7 linked regions of the Homo sapiens genome follow. The protein of the gene in region 1 purifies or fractionates together with the protein of each later gene. This does not show direct contact. Each region holds a gene or a part of one and is shown in the gene's direction. Other genes may lie near its edges. The genes, in order: GPR37, WDFY1, SLC6A3, ATE1, PPP2R5D, FAM219A and ABCB8.

Evidence for each region.
Region 2: the proteins of GPR37 (region 1) and WDFY1 purify together in Homo sapiens (affinity purification with mass spectrometry; 2 studies listed by BioGRID and IntAct, with this or other methods). This does not show direct contact.
Region 3: the proteins of GPR37 (region 1) and SLC6A3 purify together in Homo sapiens (co-immunoprecipitation; one study listed by IntAct). This does not show direct contact.
Region 4: the proteins of GPR37 (region 1) and ATE1 purify together in Homo sapiens (affinity purification with mass spectrometry; 2 studies listed by BioGRID and IntAct, with this or other methods). This does not show direct contact.
Region 5: the proteins of GPR37 (region 1) and PPP2R5D purify together in Homo sapiens (affinity purification with mass spectrometry; 2 studies listed by BioGRID and IntAct, with this or other methods). This does not show direct contact.
Region 6: the proteins of GPR37 (region 1) and FAM219A purify together in Homo sapiens (affinity purification with mass spectrometry; 2 studies listed by BioGRID and IntAct, with this or other methods). This does not show direct contact.
Region 7: the proteins of GPR37 (region 1) and ABCB8 purify together in Homo sapiens (affinity purification with mass spectrometry; one large-scale study listed by BioGRID and IntAct). This does not show direct contact.

Annotation. Positions count from the first base shown.
Region 1 is NC_000007.14:124,746,089-124,748,792, reverse strand, and holds part of GPR37 (prosaposin receptor GPR37 precursor), read left to right. Parts: intron 1-1,449; coding exon 1,450-2,268; 3' UTR 2,269-2,704.
Region 2 is NC_000002.12:223,935,336-223,938,835, reverse strand, and holds part of WDFY1 (WD repeat and FYVE domain-containing protein 1), read left to right. Parts: intron 1-3,500. UniProt on the Homo sapiens protein: Positively regulates TLR3- and TLR4-mediated signaling pathways by bridging the interaction between TLR3 or TLR4 and TICAM1.
Region 3 is NC_000005.10:1,417,941-1,421,440, reverse strand, and holds part of SLC6A3 (sodium-dependent dopamine transporter), read left to right. Parts: intron 1-737; coding exon 738-872; intron 873-3,500. UniProt on the Homo sapiens protein: Mediates sodium- and chloride-dependent transport of dopamine. Also mediates sodium- and chloride-dependent transport of norepinephrine (also known as noradrenaline). Regulator of light-dependent retinal hyaloid vessel regression, downstream of OPN5 signaling.
Region 4 is NC_000010.11:121,921,532-121,925,031, reverse strand, and holds part of ATE1 (arginyl-tRNA--protein transferase 1), read left to right. Parts: intron 1-702; coding exon 703-766; intron 767-2,620; coding exon 2,621-2,683; intron 2,684-3,500. UniProt on the Homo sapiens protein: Involved in the post-translational conjugation of arginine to the N-terminal aspartate or glutamate of a protein. This arginylation is required for degradation of the protein via the ubiquitin pathway. Does not arginylate cysteine residues.
Region 5 is NC_000006.12:42,987,570-42,991,069, forward strand, and holds part of PPP2R5D (serine/threonine-protein phosphatase 2A 56 kDa regulatory subunit delta isoform), read left to right. Parts: intron 1-2,041; coding exon 2,042-2,119; intron 2,120-3,500. UniProt on the Homo sapiens protein: The B regulatory subunit might modulate substrate selectivity and catalytic activity, and might also direct the localization of the catalytic enzyme to a particular subcellular compartment.
Region 6 is NC_000009.12:34,403,071-34,406,570, reverse strand, and holds part of FAM219A (protein FAM219A), read left to right. Parts: intron 1-606; coding exon 607-706; intron 707-3,500.
Region 7 is NC_000007.14:151,038,450-151,041,949, forward strand, and holds part of ABCB8 (mitochondrial potassium channel ATP-binding subunit), read left to right. Parts: intron 1-1,818; coding exon 1,819-1,852; intron 1,853-2,048; coding exon 2,049-2,185; intron 2,186-2,378; coding exon 2,379-2,473; intron 2,474-2,649; coding exon 2,650-2,783; intron 2,784-3,500. UniProt on the Homo sapiens protein: ATP-binding subunit of the mitochondrial ATP-gated potassium channel (mitoK(ATP)). Together with pore-forming subunit CCDC51/MITOK of the mitoK(ATP) channel, mediates ATP-dependent potassium currents across the mitochondrial inner membrane.

The DNA of each region.
Region 1 (2,704 bases):
TAGATGTCTGGACCATATGCTTATAAGAGCAGTGCCTTTTTGAATACAGTTTTTCATGTGGTTATTGTCAAAGAGTTTTATGCTCCAAAATTTTCCTGTGTTTGGGATATCTAGACATTCTTTTTGGCTATTTTCTGCATATTTTCTTGTATTTTTACATGTTCTATTTTAGTATCTCCTATTTCTTTAAATTTGATGTACATACCTATTTTATGATAAATATACTTCTTATGTCTGATTCTGTATCTTTGGCATATAAATTCATAGTGGCTCATTGTCTCTTGCATATTGTGACTTTTGATTTTGTGAACCCATGTCCCTTGAATTTTAACTATAGGATTTTTTGAGGCCTGGTTTTAAAGTGCATTCTTCCAGAGAGGATTTATGTTTGATTTTAACCAGGTGCCTGGGATTATTTTAAATTGTATTTTGGGTTTTCTGAGCCACGTAGATCCTGGAAATTCTGATCCTAACACCATGTAAGTTCAGGCTCCCAGTTAGAATTTGCCATTTTTTTCCCTCCTTTTCCCCCAGTTCATCCAGACCCAAACCCTGTCATCCAGGCAGATTTCTTCATTATCTCTCTCTCTTTTTTCCCTTTACACCTCTAAAGATGTCAGCATTTGAGGAGTTCCAAATTCACAGGGAGTCTTTGACCCAATCCCCACCCACATTGGCCCCAGCTCTGTTTCCTGTCTCTGTGCACCTGGGCACCTTGCCCCATTTTTCTAGCTAAAACTAACTTGAAACCCTCACCAGGATTGGCAGGTGCCCCTAGGGCAAACACGCAGCATGAAGAGGGAGGGGTCTCTGGCCTGTTTGAAATTTGTTTCCTTTTTGATTTTGGCCTCTGGAGAATTTCCCTTTCTTGTTTTCCGTAAGTGTATGCCTTTGAAAATAATACTGTAATACTTTATTTTGCATTTAGGAAAAATTGGAGGAGCCCTCCAATCATTTAGTCCATTGGAGACAATAAGCTCTTGAGTGTTTGCTGTGTGTAAGGCACACTACTGACCCTCACACTGGAAAACATGAGCATCCTGGTCAGCAATGAAAATGGGAATTTCTGCACTACCCTGACTCCTTATCTAGATCTCCTAGTGGCAGACATTTTCGTGGTGAATAAAATTTTTAGTGTATCTGGGTTCTGATCTATAATAAAAAGGGATTGGACTAGCTGATCTTTATGGATCCTTCCAGTCCTAAATGTTCTGCACTCCATGACCCTCAAACCACTACAGTGTGTTTTCTTTTTTTATGCTTACAATGATTCAGCTGACGTCCTGAGCCCAGTTACCCATGCCTCATTCTGGAAAACTGTTCTCTCTCTCTCTCTCATTTTTATTTATCCATATTTTTTTTTACAGTTTTGCCAATCTGCATTTATTTCCTAGTGCTTTGATCTTTCGGGGGACACCGGGAATAAATGTCTTCTATGTTCCCCCACAGGTCGCTTCTCTGGGAGTCACCACTTTCACCTTATGTGCTCTGTGCATAGACCGCTTCCGTGCTGCCACCAACGTACAGATGTACTACGAAATGATCGAAAACTGTTCCTCAACAACTGCCAAACTTGCTGTTATATGGGTGGGAGCTCTATTGTTAGCACTTCCAGAAGTTGTTCTCCGCCAGCTGAGCAAGGAGGATTTGGGGTTTAGTGGCCGAGCTCCGGCAGAAAGGTGCATTATTAAGATCTCTCCTGATTTACCAGACACCATCTATGTTCTAGCCCTCACCTACGACAGTGCGAGACTGTGGTGGTATTTTGGCTGTTACTTTTGTTTGCCCACGCTTTTCACCATCACCTGCTCTCTAGTGACTGCGAGGAAAATCCGCAAAGCAGAGAAAGCCTGTACCCGAGGGAATAAACGGCAGATTCAACTAGAGAGTCAGATGAACTGTACAGTAGTGGCACTGACCATTTTATATGGATTTTGCATTATTCCTGAAAATATCTGCAACATTGTTACTGCCTACATGGCTACAGGGGTTTCACAGCAGACAATGGACCTCCTTAATATCATCAGCCAGTTCCTTTTGTTCTTTAAGTCCTGTGTCACCCCAGTCCTCCTTTTCTGTCTCTGCAAACCCTTCAGTCGGGCCTTCATGGAGTGCTGCTGCTGTTGCTGTGAGGAATGCATTCAGAAGTCTTCAACGGTGACCAGTGATGACAATGACAACGAGTACACCACGGAACTCGAACTCTCGCCTTTCAGTACCATACGCCGTGAAATGTCCACTTTTGCTTCTGTCGGAACTCATTGCTGAAGGACAGTACTTGGTTGGGTCAGATTTATTTGTTTGATTTTCATATCCCGTGAAAGTTTTTAATTCATATTTTTCCTTATAGGGAAAAATGCAAAAAAGAAACAATAAAGAAAGAAATATTAACTACTGTAGAACTGATTTTACAAATTAATATTTGTGCTTTGAAAAAAAGTTTCTATTTAGTTATTTAAGAAGAATGAGAAGGCCAATAGTTTTAGATTATTTTATCTGGTATGGTGCTAATATTTTATTTGAAAAAAGTTACTGCAACTTAACTTAAAATTGCTAACGTTTTTTCTTCTTTTAAAAATACAATTATTGTATATTGATTATAGCAATGTGATTTTGTAGGTTATTTTATATTTGAGTTGTGATTGAAAGTATGTTGTATATGGTATTGTGAGATGATTTGTACTTGGAAGCATTCACAAAGTAG
Region 2 (3,500 bases), on another chromosome or scaffold:
TTTTTTTTTGTCACCTTCTGGGATATATTTACCTGGGGTCATTCACAGATAGCCACCTAGTTCACTGTAATCAAACTGCATATGACAAAGCTAGATACGGTCAGCACTCCAAAGAGTATTAAGCCAATGTGGAATATCAAAGCTTAATGCCATTACACCTGGGAGTCACAGGTCATTAGTGGTTTGGGTGGTCAGCTTAGGGTTCTGCTTAGAAACCTTTATGGATTAATGTCTCGTGAATGGTTAATAGAAAATGGTACTACTTCTTGTATGAAGTCATTAGTATTTTGCTGAAGTAATAATTACCTTAAGCTCTTTAATTTAAATTTAAGTTTAAGAATTTGAACTACAGTGGTGACTTTCCTGGTAGGGGAAACAGAAAATAAGACTCTGCTTTCAGAGCGGAACTAAAATGGTGAGACAGTAGGAACCAGTATGTTTGCTTTTTGGACTTTTTTGCTGTGGACTGCACCAAAAATGTAGACAGTCAGTTGATTGAATGATACAATTTTTAAAAGGTAAAAGCTTTATAAAGCCTTATAAATAAGTTAAGGCTATAGGCCTACTGTCTTCACTTTTGAGAAATAGAGTTTGTGGATGGACGTACTTATACTGTTGCATTAGGGGCTCGTAGGCCAAGATTGGTTTCTGCAGGAAACTCAATTTTGTTTGTCCCAAGTTAAAGATAAATCTCATGTGATTTAAAATGTTTTGAGATGTTGCACTTAGGCTGGGAAAGAGTAAAGATTACAGAAAACCAACTTTTAGATGTTTTTTAGCATTTTCCTTTTTTAAAAATTATACCAAATATGTAATATATTTGCTTCCACTTAGATATATCTAAGTTTATTAAGATGGTTTGGGGAAAAATTTGTGTATTTACCAATTGTTCACATAGAAACAATCTTAAATAAATAACTTGATTTTTAAGTGTTATGCCTGGGAGGAAGGCTGGCATAGCTGGAATTCATTAGTTAATACAGAAAACCAGGATGTTAACTGCTGTATTTTCATTGTCATGCAGAGCCTAAAAGTAGACTTTAATTTGTGTTATAAAATAAACTGAAGACTTGAGAAGGCAGGAAGCCTGGGTGGCCACCCCACACATTTACTCCTGTATTGTTAGGGTGATCCTTCATTGTTACAATCATTTTCTTTTTATAGCATAGTTAAGAACAAAGGCTTGGGAGCCAGAATGCCTCAGTTTGAATCCCAGCCCTGTGATCTTAGACAAGTTATTTAACCTCACTGTATCACAGTTTTCTCATGTGCAAAATGGACATGAGTCCGTTTTGTACCTGCTTTACAGAGTTTTGTGAGGATTAGGTGAATTAAACCACGTGGAACAGTGCCTAGCACAGAGAAAACATTATGCAAGTGTTAGTTGTTATTGTTTTCATTCCCATTTATTTTCCATTTAATTGCTTTAATCTTAAAGACTGGGACAGAGAAAGCACTATACAAGTGTTAGCTATTATTATTTTCATTTCCACTTATTTTGCATTTTGTTACTTTAATCTTACGAAAGAGTAATATGTTTCTACTTTGTATGCATGTTTGTGTGTGCACGTGAATAAGTGAAAATAAAAAAATTTTTCCTGTTTGAATAGGACAATACCATTTGAGGGGTTATTTACAATCCTAAATTCTTAGAACTGCCTTTGAGTCATGCCTTTTCTTTATTTCCATATTTGGTTACTTGCAGGTCATGTCAGTGATTAGTTTCACTTAGACATCTTTCCCCTGCTATATTTGAGATCCTCAAGATCGGGTTCATTGATTCACTAGAAAGATTGACACATTATAGTCATACGCATGGCTGTGATTTATCATAGCCAAAAGACGCAAAACAAAATCAGCACATGGGGTGAAATCCAGAGGAAACCAGACACAAGGCTTCCAAGAGTCCTCTTCCTGTGGAGTCACAGGACAGGCTAATTCAGATTGAATTAAGACAACATGTGTGAAATATTGTTTATCAGGGAAGCTCCTTAGAGACTTTATTCAGTGTTAGAGGCTGGTCATGTAGGTGCCCTTGGCTAATGTTCCAAAATTCCAAACTCTCAGAAGGAAGGTAGGTGGTCAACATAAACCACATATTTTATACAGGCATGAAGCACAGTGAGCCATTCTTAGGAGTTAGGGAATGGTGAGGTCCCCTCTGGATAAACAAGGTCCCAGACACCTGCCAAGGGCCAACCTTGCAAGCAAGACTTTCTAAGGACAGCAGCAGCAGGCCTGCTGTGGGAACTCTTTTCTGCCCACCTGCCCATAATTACCCTAGTGTTTGTCCTCATCATCTTTTAAACCTCATTTTTCAAAGCCTATTAACTGGCTTCCCTGAGTTCCAGCATACTGTACTTGGATCTGTCCCACTAATCTCCTATCTTTAACTAGGCTTTTATTGTGTCTTTTTCCTGCTCATGACCTTTCATTAGCTCCTTATTTAATCATGTCTGTAAAAGGACTTTGGGGGCCGGGCGCAGTGGCTCATGCCTGTAATCACAGAACATGGGGAAGCTGAGGCAGGCAGATTGCTTGAGGCCAGGAGTTAGAGACCAGCCTGGCCAACATAGTCAAACTCTGTCTCTACTAAAAATACAAAAATTAGCCAGGTGTAGGGGCTCATGCCTGTAATCCTCCCAAGAAGCTGGGCTGAGGCACGAGAATTGCTTGAACCCAAGGGGCATAGGTTGCAGTGAGCCAAGATCATGCTGCTGCCCTCCAGCTTGGGCAATAAAGCAAGACTCTGTCCCCAAAAAAAAAAAAAAAAAAAAGGACTTTGGGAACCCCATAACTGCTCCCTGCTAAGCTTTATTTCCACCTTCTATCTCTCATTTATTATGGTTCTTTTGTGTCCAGTGAAGTCAGTGTGTGTTCTGTCCCACTCACACCTGGTACATTTCCCACCTGGGTGCCTTTGCCTCCCTCACCAGGAACCTCACTTGCCCTCTCTCCTGTATTCAGACCCTCCTTCATCTCCTAGATCCACTTCAAGTTCCACCTCCTCCATTGAATAATTCTTCCCAGCCCATCATTCTCTGTCCTTTCTGAGCTTCCTTCAACACTCCTAGTATATTACTGATGATGCCTAGTTAATTACAATCAGGTATTAGTTCCTGTTGCTTTGTGTTTATTCATCTTATCTTCCCACATAGTCTGTACTCCACCAGGTACTGCATAACTAGCTACTGGTTGAATGATACAGACTTAACCATTTCTGCACAGTAGACATTTCCTCTGCTGTGTTTAGCTTTAATAATCTGCTAGTTCTTTCCTAAGAAGCAGATGGTAATATAATGAATGATACTTGTTTCTAGAATTTAGGTATTCATCTTCCCTCTCTACAAAGTATGCTCAGCAAATCTTTCTGAGAGTTGTTAAGACATTATTAGCACATATATACTGATTTCATGATGTATTTTTGTCATACTTCATGGTGAAATAATCTCTTTATTCATTTTTCTTTGTCAACCACATACTACTTTGCTCAAAACACT
Region 3 (3,500 bases), on another chromosome or scaffold:
CTTTGGGAGGCTGAGACGGGCAGATCACCTGAGGTCAGGGGTTCAAGAACAGCCTGGCCAACATGATGAAACCCCATCTCTACTAAAAATACGAAATTAGCCAGGCACGGTGGCACGTGCCTATAATCCCAGCTACGTGGGAGGCTGAGGCAGGAGAATTGCTTGAACCCAGGAGGCGGAGGTTGCAGTGAGCCAAGATCATGCCACTGCACTCCAGCCTGGGCAAAAAGAGCAAAACTCCATCTCAAAAAAAAAAAAAAAACTTTGGTTGTTATATGGGCCAAAACCAGTTTTGACCAAGATACGACTCCTCCCTTGGAAAAGTGCGTGTAGTATGGCACCAGCCACGGGAGCCTCCCGCAGGGACACAGCCCAGAGCAGCCCTTCATCGTGCCACAGTGCCGTTCACCAGTGTGAATCCACTCACGTCCCACGCATCAGAAAACCCCCATCAGCCACTCCCAGCTACTCTGGCGGACCGAATGCAGAAAAGGAATGTGCTTTCCCTGCCAAGTTGTTCTTCCCTTTCCATCCCTGGGGAGGGTGTGCAGGACAGAAAGTGTCTGACCTTCTCACTCCAAGGAGCATTTGCTGAGCTGGCGTCCCAGGAAATGTTTGGGAATTGGGCCTCCCAATCAGAGGACAAGCCGTCAGGGCAACCCGGTGCCCTTGTGCCAGTGTCTGCTCCCACCAAGGGCCCTGCCTGTGCAGCCTGGTGACACTGTCCTCTCCTGCAGGTGGTATGGATCACAGCCACCATGCCATACGTGGTCCTCACTGCCCTGCTCCTGCGTGGGGTCACCCTCCCTGGAGCCATAGACGGCATCAGAGCATACCTGAGCGTTGACTTCTACCGGCTCTGCGAGGCGTCTGTGAGTACAGTCTGCTCACTGCTTCACAGTCCACAGGGGCTCTGGCATTCCCAGGTTTCCATATGCATTGCCTGCCAGGGCTGAGAGGTGTCAGAGTTGCAGACACCAGGGTTCTTTCCTCGGGAAGCCAAATCCCAAGTACCTGTGATACAGCACGAGTCATCTAAATCAAATTACATCAGAAACTCCATCTAGACTCAGGCTGCAGCTTTGGTCAGCAAAAGAAGACATAATTCAGGGTTAAAATATTTGGAGAAAGCCTCCCGGAGAGAGGAGACTCAGCTGGGCCATGGGGGATGGGACCCTTGTCCAGAAAGGGAGGAGAAAGGGCTGCACCCTTCCTGGCAAACAGGCCCAGAAACAGAAGCAGCTGTTGGCGGAAGGCTGGCATGACAAAAATGGCAGCTCCCTTGGGGCATCGTTGGAAATCAGGTGGACTAAGTGGGGGAGGTGGCAGGCCCCAAAGCCGCCCAGGGGCATCCATGTTGCTGTGGGAGGACAATGCAGCAAGAGGGGAAGGGCCATCTCAGCTGGGGTATGAGGCAGGAGGCCGTTGAGAGGTGCTGCCCTGTGTGGGTGGGCCGGTGGAGCCAGGTCTGGGGGTCATGAGGCAAGTGTAAACCCAAGGCAGAAGTGGGAAGGAAGGGGAGAAGGGATGGGCGGGCATGGCTGCAAGCCTCCCAGGAAGCCCCAGGGAGGCAGCAGCTGACAGGTGCAGTGAGAGAGGGCACCTGGACATGGCACCTATGAGGCTGCAAAGCAGTTGGGTGGGGGTGGGGGTGGAAGTGTGCCTGCAGCACTGAAGGGGAAGCCCTGTGGAGACAGGAGCCATGGGTGCAGCAGGCGTGTGGCCCACGGGAGCCAAGGAAGAGAGAGGAGGACAACCAGGGCAGCAAAATCAGCTGTGGCCGGGGGCCCACAAGTGCAGAGCTGGAGCCAGACAAACCATGAAGTCAGCAGGGCGTCTGGACCCCAGAAAGGCCAAAATGAAGCCAAGGGGTGTGTTTGCAGGACCATGGCATGTTACAGAATCAAAGAAAAATACCACAAGGACAACGTAGAGCCTAGTGCTCCAGCTAGGAAGAATAGGCAGCCCCAGGAGGAGGCAAAACAAACACCAGTGCATGTGAAAAGATGCTCACTGGAGAACAAATTACAAAGATGAGATGTCAGAAATTAGGTGGAGACAGTGAATAGATTGGATGGATGGATGGATGGATGGATGGATGGATGGATGGATGGATGAATGCTAGGTAAGTAGGTGGATAGGATGGATGGATGATAGGTGGGTAGATAGAATGGATAGATAGGATGGGTGGATGGAAGGCTGGCTGGCTGGATGTATGGATAATGGATGGGTGGATGGAGGAATGGATGATAGGTAGGTAGCTGGATAGTATGGATGGATGGATGATGGATGGATGGATGGATGGATGAATGGATGATGCATGGGTGAATGGGTGGATGAATGATAGGTAGCTAGATAGGATGGACAGATGGATAATGGATGGATGATGGATGGGATGGATGGGTGGATGGATGATGGGTGGATTGCTGGATGATGGATGGCTGGGTGGATGGATGAATGATAGGTAGGTAGCTGGATAGCATGGATGGATGGATGGATGGATGATGAATGGATGATGGATGGGTGAATGGGTGGATGAATGATAGGTAGGTAGCTAGATAGGATGGATGGATGGATGGATAATGGATGGATGACGGGTGGGTGGATGGATGATGGGTGGATTGCTGGATGATGGATGTTTGGGTGGATGGATGAATGATAGGTAGGTAGCTGGACAGCATGGATGGATGGATGGATGATGGATGGGTGGGTGGATGGATGGATGGATGGATGATGGGTGGATTGGTGGATGATGGACAGATGGGTGGATGGATGAATGATAGGTAGCTGGATAGCATGGATGGATGGATCGATGATGGATGGGTGGATGGATGGATGATGGATGGGTGGATGGATGGATGATAGGTAGGTAGATAGGATGGATATACAATAGGATGGATGGAGATAGATACATACACACACATGTACTTCATATATTCATAGATGATAGACAGTTGATAGATTATAGAGATGACAGATAGATGATAGATTGGTGATGGATTGATAGATGACAGTGATAGATGATAGATAGATAGATGATTGATTGATAGATAATAGATGATGGATTGATGTATAGTGAAGAGAAATCAGGAAAGAAATGGAAGGAAAGGACAATTGCAGGTCCTGGAGTGAAAGTGCATGAGGTGAGGCCCAGGGAGGCAGCCATGGGCACTGGCTCTGGTGTGGCACTGGGCAGAGGCCTGAGCTGCACACACAGATCAGGGTGAGGAGGAGGCAGGCGCTCCCCTGTGACACCTGATCCAGCCTGCAGCTACCTGGCCAGGCAGGTGGCTGATGACCAGCATGGGAGCCACATCAGGGTATGAGCCTCTCCACCCACTGCCCACCCAGCCACTCTCGGCTTGGCTCCTCCCCTCATGCTGAAACACTGGCCACCTGCAGAGTCCTGACTGCGGGGCCTGGCCATCTGCCTCCAAACACACTGTCCCAGGAACTGGGGTTGCCTTGAGGCTCTGACATGCTGCCCAAAGGACAGAGGG
Region 4 (3,500 bases), on another chromosome or scaffold:
GAACTAATAAGCACAAAACATTTTGCTAAGTTTTCTGAAGAGACCAGCATGTTAAATCATTGGGGATATTTATTAAAGTTTGAAGGTCTGATGCAGTCTGATTGCAGTGAGGACTTAAATTTATGCTGTCATAGAGACTATTGACTAATCCTCAAATAAATATAATTAACTTCGATGTGTTTTTTTGAATGAAAATATATATAGTGTCATTCTTTATTTGTGCTGTGTGTATGCCCAACTAACAGCTGTGAAGTATGTACAAACTTTTCATTTATCCAATATGAGTGTTTTGGAATTTTAACCTAAACACTCCTATTTTTTTTTTTTTTTTTGAGATGGAGTCTCACTCTGTCGCCAGGGCTGGAGTGCAGTGGCGTGATCTTGGCTCACTGCAACCTCCGCCTCCCGAGTTCATGTGATTCTCCTGCTGCAGCCTCTTGAGTAGCTGGGATTACAGGCGCCCGCCACTATGCCCAGCTAAATTTTTGTATTTTTAGTAGAGATGGGGTTTCACCATGTTGGCCAGGCTGGTCTTGAACTCCTGACCTTGTGATTTGCCCGCCTTGGCCTCCCAGAGTGCTGGGATTACAGGCATGAGCCACCGTGCCCGGACACACACTCCTATTTTTAAACCTCACACTTTGAATTTAAAAAAGAAAAAAGGTTACCCTGCCGTAATTAACACACTACTTATTTTTTCAGGCATGTGGGCACATTCCATGACAGTACAGGATTATCAGGATCTCATAGACCGAGGATGGCGAAGGTAAAGCTTCCAGATACAAAGAGACTTCCTACTGTTACTCAGGTTCTTGAAAAATACAGCATGCCTTTGAAATGCTTTCCTGTTGGAAAGAGGTTTAAGAAAAATTTTTATTATATTCTTTTATGTAGTGATTTTTTGTCTCCTTTTTAAAAAACTTTGTTAGGAAAATGTCAAATATCTATAAAAGCAGAGAGTACATTAGAATGAACCTCAAGTACCTATCACTAAGCTTCAGCAGTTATTAACGTTCTGCCAATCATGTTTGATTCTCCTGCTCCACCTTTTAATATTTAACAGCAAATTACATCAGTAGGTTATTATGACATTTATCCTATCAATAGATAGGCAATAAGTATGTATCTCTAAGAGAGAGGTCTTTTTTTCTTTTTAACTTATCCACAATGCTGTATCACACCTTACAAAATTAATAAAAATTCTTTGATGTTACCTGTTACCTACTTTTTATTAGATTTTCCAGATTGTCTCAAAAATGTCTTCTTTAACAGTTTATTTGGATAAGGATTTCCTTAAAGTCCACACATGGCCTGTTTTGAGTAGTTATTTTTATGTGGATGATTTTTAAGTAACTCTTAGGTAAAGTTCCTTGTGTAAATATAAGTAATATTAAATACTGTACGCTAATACTTGCCAAAGACGTGGGATTGGGAGCACCAGCTGAAATATCACAACTTTCCTTAAACTTAATGAGATTCAAAAGGTAGACATAGGTCAGATTTTAAAGGACTTCACATGCCATGATAAGGAACTTTTTTTTTTAGAGACATGGTCTCGCTCTGTTGCCCAGGCTAGAGTCGCTCTCTTGCCCAGGCTAGAGTACAGTGCCATCATCATAGCTCACTGTAACCCCAAATTCCCACACTCAAGTGATCCTCTTGCCTCAGCCTCTGCAGTGGCTAGGACTACAGGTGTGCATCACAACACCTGGCTAATTTTTCAGTTTTTTGTAAGATCTTGGCTATGTTGCCCGTGCTGGTCTCGAACATCTGGTTGCAAGTGTTCTTCCAGCTTAGCTTTTCAAAGTGTTGGGATTATAGGTATGAACCACCATGCCTGGCCAGAACTTTTTAGAAGGCAGTCATGGAAGGATTTTATGGTAAGAGAGAAATGTGAAGGAATTTGTTTTAGAAAAGATTGTTCAGATGGCTGAGAGGTATTTGAGGGGGGGTCATAGAGGCAGGAAGATGAGTTCAAAGGTTATTGCGCTATCCAGATGTGCGATGATGAGGACTGTCACCTTAGTGGCAATGGTGATAGAGAAGAGGGGACAATTTAGGATAGGGTTTAAAATGAAGGAAAGCTTGCTAATAGGATATAGAGGTGAATTCCAGGGAGGAGTTTAAAATGACTCCCAGGTCTCTGACTTGAGAACAGAATGAACAGTTCTGTTAGTACCATAGACCTGGAATGCATGGAAAGAAGCGGGTTAGTTTTGGGGTACTCCGTGCTGGTGCATGTGGAATACCCAAGTGTGGTTGTCACAGGCATCACATACATGAGTCCCACAGCATCGTGGGCATTTCTCTCATTGCCCTTGTGGTATTGGGGATTGGTGGCAGGTGAAGGCAGAGCAGGGGTGGCAGATGCTGGTGAGAGGGGAACTGAGATGATTGGCCGTGGGGTACACAAGTAAAGCTTTAGGAAATAAAAGGCAGGGTTCTAAACTTTGCTACACGCACTTTGAAGATTATTTGGCTTATGAAGAGTAATTAAACCTACATGCATTTCTACAATGTTGATTAGATTTTTAACCTTAATTTAATGCTCCTGTGCTAGGCTGTTTTGGTGCAAGTGAAAAATATATAAGACATTAACAAACTATTTTTATAATTTTAGAAGTGGAAAATATGTGTACAAACCTGTCATGAATCAAACATGTTGTCCTCAGTACACAATAAGGTAAGAATTTTAATTAGTAGAAAGAGGATTTATAGTATGAAGATTGTGTATAATATTTTAGTAGTCTCTTGTGCTTTTTTAATGTTTATTTCCGCTCTAGGTAGATGTCCTTTAAAAGGAAAAGTAAATGAGTTATGTCTTTTCTTCATACTGATGCTGTATTTATGTGCTGATCAGTAGGTTTTAGTAATATTGTTTGATTGGTTCAGATATAAATATGTGAAAAAAATACCCTCTTAATTTAGCAATCTTGTCAATGAATGCCATGAAATATTGGGAAAATGTTGGTAAATATTCACATTACTTTTGGATATTAAATATTATAGGACTTAGCTTAGAATTTTCTGCATTCTGGTGTATTGCTTGACACAGTGCTTGTGTTCAAGCAATGCTACAGGCTCCTATAAATTACTTGGTAGGTTCACGTTCTCATGTTGTGGGATTCAGGAGGACAAGAGAGACCTCGGGTTAAAACAGGAGAAACTTTATTGAGTGCACTTAGGCCCAGCTGACTCAACGTCTAAAAGACTGGGCCCGGAACAAAGACTTTTATACACAGTTCACAGAAGGGGGTGGGCTAGCTTGAAGCAAGCTTACAGTGGCGTGAAAGCAGGGATACAGAGGCAGGACAAACTCAGGATTGCACATGACCGTTGCCAAGCAACCCAGATGTCCGTTATCTAGGTTTGCCTGGGCTTATCCCATAATCTTCACTATGGTGCCCAGGCAGCTGCAGTTCAGGCCTACTCAGGCTTCTCATGACATTCATTGTACTTCTCAGATAAAACAATACTTGAAGTCACTAGTTACAGAGAAC
Region 5 (3,500 bases), on another chromosome or scaffold:
TAAGAGTTGGGCCCAAAACACAGGGCTGAGTCCAAACATGTTCTTTTAACCTCTGTGCTACACAGCATTTGACTACTGAGCTGGGCTGAAATGTGTGTGCTTCACCTGTTCTGCAGGAGCCAGGGAGCAAGGGTGGTAGGCCTGGTTCCTCCATGCCCACTCACACCCACACACTAAGGCAGCTGGATCTCTCTTAGGCTCATTCTTTGAAAGATACGTCTGAGGCATCATGCTGAGTGCTGTAGGGTGGGTGGAGGGGTACAAAAAAGAATAAGCAGCTTATGGTCTAATAGATTGGAGATGTATGAAGATGGGTCAGCTTTGTTCAAGGGGTTCATGTCTGGGGTGTGTGCAGACACCTCAATGTTGTGTCCTGCCTGCACCCTGCCCCCGGCCTATTTCTCTCCACCCCATGCTCTCAGCCACTGATAAGGGTCAGTGTGGCCAGCTGGGTTAGTATACAGCAGGAGCGTGCTCAGGCCAAAGAAGGAACTCCTTCCCCCTACTGCATGGAGCTGCTCTACACCACACCTTTCTTCCTCCCCACCTCCAAGAAGCCTTCCCCCTACTCCAGCCCACACAGAGCTCTCTTCTCCCTGAAATCCTTTTGCCCCCATAGTCACAATAACTCGATTTAACACTTCTCACTGAAGGGGCTTGGCTGCTATTGAATTGCACAATCTCAGAGCTGGAAGTGATTTCCAAGATCCTCCAGTCCTCATTAAAGGCTTGAATTTCTTTTGCAACATGCCTTACAGGAGGTCACCAAGCCCCTGCTTGAATGTTCTCAGGGGTTGGGGAGCTTTCGGCTTCACTAGGTGGCCAGTTTTAGTGCAATTGCTCCATGATAAAATTCTTCCTTGTTTGGAGCTTCAGGTGGCTTGCAACTTCAGCCCATTGCTCTCGTGCCTCTGGTCCATATGGACAAGTTGCATCCAAGGCATCCAAGTTGCATCTTCATTTGTTTAAGATCCATCTTGCTTCTCCATCCCTCATGACTCCTCCCTTCCATTGTTAACTATCCCAGTTCCTGCAGCTGTTGGTCTTGGGACATGCCTTTGAATCCACTCCCAGTATGGGTTGCATTTCCCTCTAAGAAACACTAGGATTTGTCATGGCCCCTCCCAAGCCTGATGCTCATGACTGAACCAGATCCTCCAGGATAGCCCTGTCAGTGCCAAGCAGTCTGCACAGGTCTTTTAACAAGATGGAAGGTCACATGAGCTGCACATGGATGATTTGTGTTGAGCTTGCAGTCAGACCTAAATCCCCAAGTCTTTTTCACATTTTCCCTATCCTGTCCCTGTGCAGTTGCTTTTTTTGGCTCGAAGCATAGGAAGAGATGCTGGGCAGGCCAGGGCTCTGAGCCAGCTGCCAGGTTCCCAAAGGAGACTTCAGACTAGTGCTCACTCTTTGTAACAGTTCAGGGTTTTACCCCCATCCCTGTCTTAGTGCTTGTCAACTGAGGTGCTCTTGGCATTTTGAGTGGGACAGTTCTGTACCTGTTAGCATTCCTGGGCCTTACTGATTAAATGCTGAGTAGCACCCTCTTGTCTGTGCGCTATTTGTGACATCCAAAAATTGCCTCCCAGTCTTTCCAGGTGGCTGTGAGGGGAGAGTGGTGACTCCCTGCACTCCAGCATGAAAGCCTCCGGCACACCTTTGACCACTTTAGCCAGAAACCAGTGAGCAGCTGTTCCCTGATGCTTTTTCTTTAAGCCTCCTCACCCTGGTTCTGACCTGAGCAAAGGCCCTCCCAGGCCCAACCTCTGCACCAGCCTGATGAGGTGAAAGATGGAGCATTCTCACGCTGAATTAGTGTGTGTTTGGGGTGACTTCCTAACCAGATTCTAAACTCTTTGGAGGGGCTGAATCTCCTTCTGCGTAGATCCCTCCACCCACCCCAGCTCCGCACAAGGTAGATTCTAATTGATTGATTCAACTGGACAGAGGATATTTGCAACAAAGATCTAAGGGAGCCAGATAAGACCTCTCCCTTCTCCTGGCATCTGCTAACTTTACTTTCATCTTTTCCTTTCAGGAGCCCCCCAAGGTTGCCAAATGCACAGCCAAGCCTAGCAGCTCGGGCAAGGATGGTGGAGGCGAGAACACTGAGGAGGTAATGAATGTAGGCGTAGCCTTAGATGTGGTGCAGGTGCCACCCGCAACTCCATGATGGCTAGTTGGGTAGGGGATCCCAGGGGGTGAGGCAGAAGGGAAGGCTTCCATATCCTGGGAGGGACCTGGACAGCCCATCCAGACTGCCCTCAGGCAGGATTTACCTTTGGTTGGTATAGACCAAATACATTCTCTAGTTCTTCAGACTCCCCAGAGATTCCTATGAAAGTTGTTTCTCTGCTTACCAACTTGGAATGTTGAGAATTCCTTTTTCTTAGGGCAAAAAGCGGGAGGTTCTGGGATCCTGGGCAAAAGGGGAAAAGTCCACAGACACTTGATGGGGTAACAAGTGACTTCAGCATGGCTCGGGTGGGGCAGGGGATTGGGAGGGGCTGGTGTCCCTGAGTTGGGCCCAGCTGGGCCCACTGCCCTTGGTCCTGATTGAATGGCAGCATGACTAAAAGACAGTCCTGAGCAGAGTTCAGCGCAGCTTAGCAATCTCGGGTTATAAAGCAATAAACAGCAAGCCGAGAGAACACCAGAAGAGGGAGAGACTTAAGGAAGTACACAGTATGTCCATGAAAGTTTGGGAGTGTGCACAGTGGGATGCTCTGGATGGTGAAAGATCCTGTGAACATACACAGCGAGCATCCACCACATCCTACCTGGAAACTGGTGTTTGGTGCTTTCTCTGCTTTCTCCCTCTGCTCTAAACTGTTCAGAGGGATGAAAGAGAACTGGAAACACAGCTCTCTAGTTATGGACAGGTCTTATGGTTTTTTGGGAGAAGAGATTGATGAGCAAATGTTTGGGGTTAACTATGCGTTTAGATGTTTCTCAGTACTTCTGGTGATAGGTCACCTCTAAAGAGATACAAGCACTTTTCACACCTCATTTTAGGCCTCATTTAAGTAATGAGAAGCTGAGTAGGTTTTCCCCATTTTATAGGCATGGAAGTTGAGGACCACAGAAGAGGAATTATTCTTTCCTCTGCACTTATGCAGTATTCTACTTTTTTTTTTTTTTTTTTTTTTTTTTTGAGATGGAGTCTCTCTCTTGTTGCCCAGGCTGGAGTGCAATGGTACGATCTCGGCTCACTGCAACCTCCACCTCCCGGGTTCAAGCAATTCTCCTGCCTCAGCCTCCTGAGTAGCTGGGATTACAGGCGCATGCCACCATGCTTGGCTAATTTTTTTGTATTTTTAGTAGAGACGGTGTTTCACCATGTTGGCCAGGCTGGACTTGAACTCCTGACCTCAGGTGATCCACCCGCCTCAGCCTCCCAAAGTGCTGGGATTACAGGCGTGAGCCACTGCACCCGGCCCTTATGCGGTATTCTAAATATCTCCTTAATAATCCTTATCACTCAGCTCTGTGACGAT
Region 6 (3,500 bases), on another chromosome or scaffold:
GGTTCTCCCCGGAGACACTCTTTAGGTGTCATTTGTGAACTGGAGAAGTCCTCATTAGAACTATTTTTTTGTCCAGTGGCTGTAGCCTTGAAGGCTGGTGTGGCTTGGTCAGTCAGTTCTCTGGATCCTGTGAAGGGACCTGTCCAGCACAGGGAAACAGAGGGAGAAGACCCATCTCAGACAGCACCTGCTCTCCCCTTAACCCAGACTTAAACTCACAGGAACCTAGGAAGACCTTGCCAAGCAAGTACACAGGAAGGGCCTGAGGGGAAGGGCTACTAGTATGGGAGTTAGGAGAAGGAAGTCCTGTGAGTTTAAAGAAATCATGATGGGCTTTCTGGAGGAGGCTGGACCACACAGGACTTTGAGGACAGACACCAAGTTGGGTGTACATGGAACCCAGATCCTTGGTTCTTCTACCTAGCCCAGTGTTTTTGTCCCACGGTAGATGGGTCTGCCCCTCTCTCCCTGAATGCCCTGCCTGCTCTGAGGGGTGAATGCTCACAGAAGCCCAGAGGGCAGGTGGGAAGGCTAGCTTCAGGACTGAGAGCAGCCCCCTGTCTTCACTCCCTAACAACTCTCTGTCTTACTGCTTTCTCCCCACAGGACCCAGCCGCCGCCTCCATCTCTGACGGAGACTGTGACGCCCGGGAGGGTGAGTCAGTAGCCATGAATTACAAACCATCCCCGCTCCAAGTGAAGCTGGGTGAGTGTGTCTGGGGGGTGAGGGAGATGTGGGGAGTAGGCAAGATACTCTGGGCTGGGTCTACAATGAGGTGCCACAAATAAACCAGCTCAGCCTAGATGATTCCAAGACTCAAGCCTTCAAGTCATTGGCACTGCGAGGCACCTTGTCTCCTGCAGGCAAAGAGGGCAGTTACAGTTCTCTGCAGGAGCCTGAAACTCTAAGAGGCATCTCTGAAGCCAAGAACGTTCCAGGTATTCTGGGGCATAGCTGCAGGGGGAAAAGCATGGAACCCCAGAGAGAGGACTTGGAAGTCCCATCAAACACTGGATCAGGCTGAGAGGAAGCTGCCTTAGAAGTGGGATGTTACTTGTTATGTCTAAGGGATAGAAAGGAAAGAGAGTTCCAACCCTAGAAGCCGAGCCCCTCTCCCGATTACAATCTCAGCCCATCTAGAGATCTCTGGGCCCAGTTGGCACCTATCTGGGGGAGTTTTCCCTTCGTTTCTTAGAAAACCCAAATATCTCCCTTCCTTTCTGGGTCACATTTCCCTTGTGGCTTTGTCTCATGTCCATTCCAAAGTCAGTTTACTGTGCAGCCTGATCCTGTGAAGTCCCCTCGCTTCTGGCCACTGTCCACAGCTCCTACCACTATTGCCCTCCCTTCACCTCATGGGCTGTCCCTCTCCCTTCAGGGACCAAAGTTTCACTGTCTCATGGCTGCTGTATATAACACACTTTTATGAAAACTTTGGTTTCTTGAAGAGAAATTACAAAACAGGACATACAGGAAAGAATTTACAATTAAATATAGGTCATTACTATCCTTCCAAGTTCCTCTGCCATCAAGGCCACCCTCCTGTCCATCCTCCTCCTCAGGCTCCAGCTGCCCAACAATTACTGATGCCTCCTCAGTCCTAAGGGCCCTTTGCCTACAACTTTCTCCTTCCTTTCCACAGAGGCCTGTATTTTATTATTCAACTACTATTTTTTTTTCTTACCTTGCTTGCTTCTGTCCTTCCAGACCACATCCAGGGAGCCCCTCGAGCTGTTTTTCTAAACAAGAATAGTCCTCTCCTTGGAATTTGTTTCTATTCCTAGGACATCAGATTAAAACTGCAGCCAATTTTATTTATCAGGGGTGTTGGTTGTTGTTGTTGTTGTTGTTGTTGTTGTTTTGAGACAGAGTCTCTCTCTGTTGTCCAGGCTGGAGTGCAGTGGCATGATCTTGGCTCACTGCAACCTCCGCTTCCCTGGTTCAAGCGATTCTCCTGCCTCAGCCTCTCAAGTAGCTGGGATTATAGGCGCGCATCACCACGCCCAGCTAATTTTTGTATTTTTAGTAAAGATAGGCTTTCGCCATGTTGGCCAGGCTGGTCTGGAACTCCTGGTCTCAAGTGATCCGCCCACCTCGGCCTCCCAGAGTGCTGGGATTACAGGCATGAGCCACCATACCCAGCCTATTATTGTTTAATATCACAATACAAATATTTTAACAAGCATAACTTCTTTACTCTCCCCCATCACATTCTCCTCCTAAGAGGTAACCATTCCAAGCCTTTTCAGTTTTTGTAGTTTTACTTTGTATTTTAACATAAGTGGTATCATATTGTGCACATTTTCTGAAACTTGGCCTTCCCTCTTCCACCACCTAAATCTTGGAGCTCCTTCCAATGTCATCATATTGTGACTTCATTCTTTTAAATGGTTGTATAGTAGTCTTTAGTTTGGTTTTGCCAGTTTATTGTTTGCTTTTTTCCCACTATTTCAAACAATTTCAGCATGCTTTTAAAATAACATCTTTTTTTCTCCCCATTACATTACCATCAAAGCTCCTCATGAAAATTCACAGCATTGTCCCAGTTGCACCTAGTACCACCAGGAACTTTAAGGCAAATTGCACCCCCTAGAGGCCTGGAGTGGTAATGGCAGCTGCCACCTGCTGGAAAGAAGCTGGGAAAAAGCTGGAATCAGCTGAGCACTGGCAAAGAAAGAGGGTCAAAGAGTAGAAGACAGAGATTCAGAGACATGAGGTCAGGGGAAATTTCCAAGTGAGTCACAGTAGCTGTAAAGGTCCTTCCCATCCTTACCCTCTGGAGCATTTGGCTATTTTATGAGTCATTTTCCCTAGTGTCCCTCTCCACCTAACAGTTCCTTTTCCTAGATCTGGCCTTTACTTGAGATGAGTAGGGAAGAGTAGATGGGACTCCTCCAAGACCCAGGAAGCTACTTCTGGTAACAGTTGTCACATACCAGGCAGTGGACTGGGTCACCTGATGGCCAGCTCCATGAAGCTGGTAGGCTTTGGAACCTTGGAGAACTCAGACCTTGGCAAAGGAGTCAGGAGCACCACTCAGGCAGCGTAGCCAAATGGGCTCCCCCAGCCTTCTGCCCCTTACTTTGTAGCCCCATCCTGCACCTCCCACACCATAACCTTCAGTGGCTTCTTCTTCCTTCTGCGTTAATCCCAAACTCCTCTGTCTGGCATTCAAGTCCTTCATGTTCTGAGTTTGTAACCAGAGAGGGTCTTCGGCCCCTTAGCACAGGACCAGACTTATAATTAGTGACATGGATATTTGTTGAATAAGTGGCTGAATAAATGAATTTTACTTCTCTAACCTGACCTCTCTCTTCACCCCTCTATCCAGAGCCACACTTATGCTCACTTTTAAATGCATTTTTGCACACACTATCCCTCCTTCCTAGAATGTCCACCTCTCTCCAGGTCATGGTGTCACCTAAAGGAAGCCCTCTCTGACTGCGCCATCCTTCTGTGATTGTCTCTCCCCCGCCAGCCTTTCCCTGGCATCAAGTAC
Region 7 (3,500 bases), about 26 Mb from region 1:
GCAGTGACCTGAGATTGCGCCACTGCACCCCAGCCTGGCAACAGCAAGACTCCGTCTCAAAAAAAAAAAAAGAAGCCCAGTGGCTCCCTTAATAAAATCACCCCTTAGCCCTCTGTGGTGGGCAGTGGTGGGACAGTCTCCCTGTGGGGAGGGTGGCTGCACTGTCCAGCCCCAACCCTCCCGCTTCGGGACCCCCACTTCCCCTTTAGGGCCTGAGACTCTGACTTTACCTCCCACCGTACTGCTTGGCCATCCAGCAGCTTTATGACACACACAAGAACCCCCAGGGGCTTGTCTGTGCTGTTTCGCTGGCTGCTCCCACAGCCACAGGCCCTAGACCCATCCTCTTGGAGGTCCTTCTAGCGCTGCCTATGTGGAGATTCTTCCCCACTCATCTTGGGGGTTTGGATTTGTTGCATAAAGCAGCTGATGTGTTTCCCACAGGGTCCTGCCAGCTAAGCCAAGGGCCCATGCATTGGCACTGGGGTCTAGCAGAGAGAGGGGAGCAGGATGGCCCGGCCTACCTCAGGCAGCCTAACCTATGAGCCCATCCTGAGTACTCCTGATGGAGATGGGGAGGTGCCCAGACAGACAGCAAGTGGGGCCCAGCCGCCTCATCAGAATCAGGGCCAGGCTCCACCTGGGAACAGGCCCGTAGCCTACAGCCCACGGCCCCTGAGAGCAGGGTCATCACACTCCAATGAGTCATGTGCATTTTGAATTTCAGTTGCTGCCCAGCCCCTTTGCCAGGCCCTAATGTCTTCCAGATCTCTGGTGGAGAATGTGCCCCTGCTCATCAACAGATAGCTGGCTGGGCTGGCTCCTTCCTGCCTGGTGCCTCCCCCGGCTGCCTTTAGCAAGTGCTGACTGCACTGAGTCCACTGGGACCTTTTCCTTTTGGGTTTCGAGGCTCCTCCCACTCACCCCCACCCTAGTGCTGGAAGAAGTGAGTCTGCAGCTGAAGGGTTGCTGGGGAGTCAGTCTTTCCTCTTACTTAGGAGGGGACCAGGCATACACACACTGTCACAGGTCAGCCAGGCCAGTCAGGGACCAGTGACTCACCTTCCTCCTCAGCCTCCTGGCAGCCGGCCAGCCCTACCCCGGCCCTGCCGGGACGAAGGAGGCCACCCACTGTCTAGACAGATAACACTGTGGGTATACTTATCTGCAGGGCAAGCTCATGAGAAAAATTTTTTTCAGGGAATTTTGTTTTGGGGTCTCCTGAGAGTTCCCCTGTGGCCCAGTGTCTTCTGTTTTCTTCTTTCTCCAAAAAGATTTAACATCACTTCTTCCACCTAAATGTCTGCCAAAGTCATTGCTTCCCCAAGAGTCTGCAGCATTAGATCTGCTCTCCCCTTCTAAGCCACGCACCCTTGATCTCTGTTCATGGTGGCGGCCTCCGCATCCTCAGGGCCGAGCAGGGAGTCCGTGGGTCAGCTGGGCTCCCTTCCTCGTGGGCTGATATCACCGCTGCATGTGTGCACAGGCCTCACCCTGCAGACCACAGGCCAGGGCACTGGAGGACACCCACAGAGGCCTGTGCCTTCACTTCCATTTCCTCGTGGAGCACCCCCTCCCAGGGGCTTGGGCTGAGCTGAGGGACAGCTGTCATCCTCATCTGGCCAAGGAGGGAGCCAGGGCTCAGCGATCTGGTGTTGCTACGTCCCAGGGCTCTACGCCCCCATGGTGCAGGAGCAGTCTCTGCATTTGGCCACAGGCCACCTGCTTCCTTGCTCCCCCGCCCCACCGTGGCTTCCTTCCCCTCCTCTGGCTCTTCTTGTTCCCATCTATTCCACCCCTCTCTCCTTTTTCTGACAGGTCCATGGCCAACCTCTCTGTCCTGTTTGGGCAGGTGAGTGGCCGGTAGGGTGGAGGGCCTGGGGTGTGGAGTTTGTGCCGTGTGTGCCGCTGTGGGAGCTGCCTATTGACTGGGTGTGGGCGGGCAGAGGAGCTGGGGAGACCCCAGCCCAGAGCCATGGCCACTCCCTGGAGATGCTGTTGTCACCCCTACTCCTGCCTCCCTGCGGACTTTGGATCCCCTCCCACAGGTGGTCCGGGGGCTGAGTGCAGGTGCCCGGGTCTTTGAGTACATGGCCCTGAACCCCTGCATCCCACTGTCTGGGGGCTGCTGCGTCCCCAAAGAGCAGCTGCGTGGCTCCGTTACATTTCAGAACGTCTGCTTCAGGTCAGCACGGGTGAGCAGGCGTGGGGATGGGTCCCTGGGCCGGGGATGAGGCGAGTGGATTCGGGGGTGGAGGTCTGGACTAATGTCCCCCATAAACAGGCCCTCTCAGAGGGCTACAGGGAGACTTCAGGAGGGACCCGGGCAACAAGGGCTGGGAGCCTGGTCTGACTGGGGGTCTCTCGGCTCCTCCCAGCTACCCCTGCCGCCCCGGCTTCGAGGTGCTGAAAGACTTCACCCTGACGCTGCCCCCTGGCAAGATCGTGGCCCTCGTGGGCCAGTCTGGCGGAGGTAAGGGGAGCCCACCACCTCTTCACCCTCTGACTCTTCTCTAGCAGCCACTCAGAGCAAGGCCGGGAGCAGTGAGCCCCCGGTGGGGTCCCTTCCTCCACTGCCACAAGGGGCCTTCTTTCCTGGGACAATCCCTAGAATCCCTGGCCTCCCTCCCTCTCAACCCAATTCCCCAGGAAAGACCACCGTGGCTTCCCTGCTGGAGCGCTTCTACGACCCCACGGCAGGCGTGGTGATGCTGGATGGGCGGGACCTGCGCACCCTTGACCCCTCCTGGCTCCGGGGCCAGGTTGTCGGCTTCATCAGCCAGGTGCGGGGCCACATGGGCAGCCCTTGGCTCCCACTGCCCGTCCTCCCCTGGGCCCTGCCCCCTTAGTCCTCAGGTGCCTTTTCTTTCTTTCCCACCCTCATCCTTGCTGCTCTCGGGAGACCCTGGCCGTCTTCACATGTCCTCAGCTGTTGTCTGGGTGAGGCATCCCTGTCGTGGGAGCAGCCACAGCTCTGCCTGGTCTCCCAGAGCAGGGACGCTTTGTCCGCATTTACAGCAGTCTACACAGATGGGGAATCCCTCAGATTCTCTGCAAATCCCATAGCATCCAGGTCTAGAGAAGCCTATAGTGGAGGTGCTGAGCTGCAGCCGTTCTCCCTCTGCTTGAGGTGGCACTGCCCAGCGAGGGTCCACCCTTCCCTTTGAGGGCCGTGAATGAAGAGGGCATGCCTGCTGTCCGCCAGGGAGAGTGCCTGTGCAGAAGAAAGGCAAATGCAAGCCCCCAACTCCCAGCGCCCTGCCCTGCCAGCTCCTCCCACTCCCACTCCTGGGGAGGGATTCTGGGCCCTTGGTAGGAAGTCGAACTGTCCTTCCCTTTTGGGGGCCACTCTGCATCCTCACTTCACCTCTGACTTTGAACGTCTGATTCTTCAAGAGATCCTAATCTAATCCACCAGATAGACTGTCCCATTGTGTATGGTGGCCCCTCCAGTTTCTGGGGCAAAGAGAATGTTTCTATGGACTCTGTCTCCATAACCC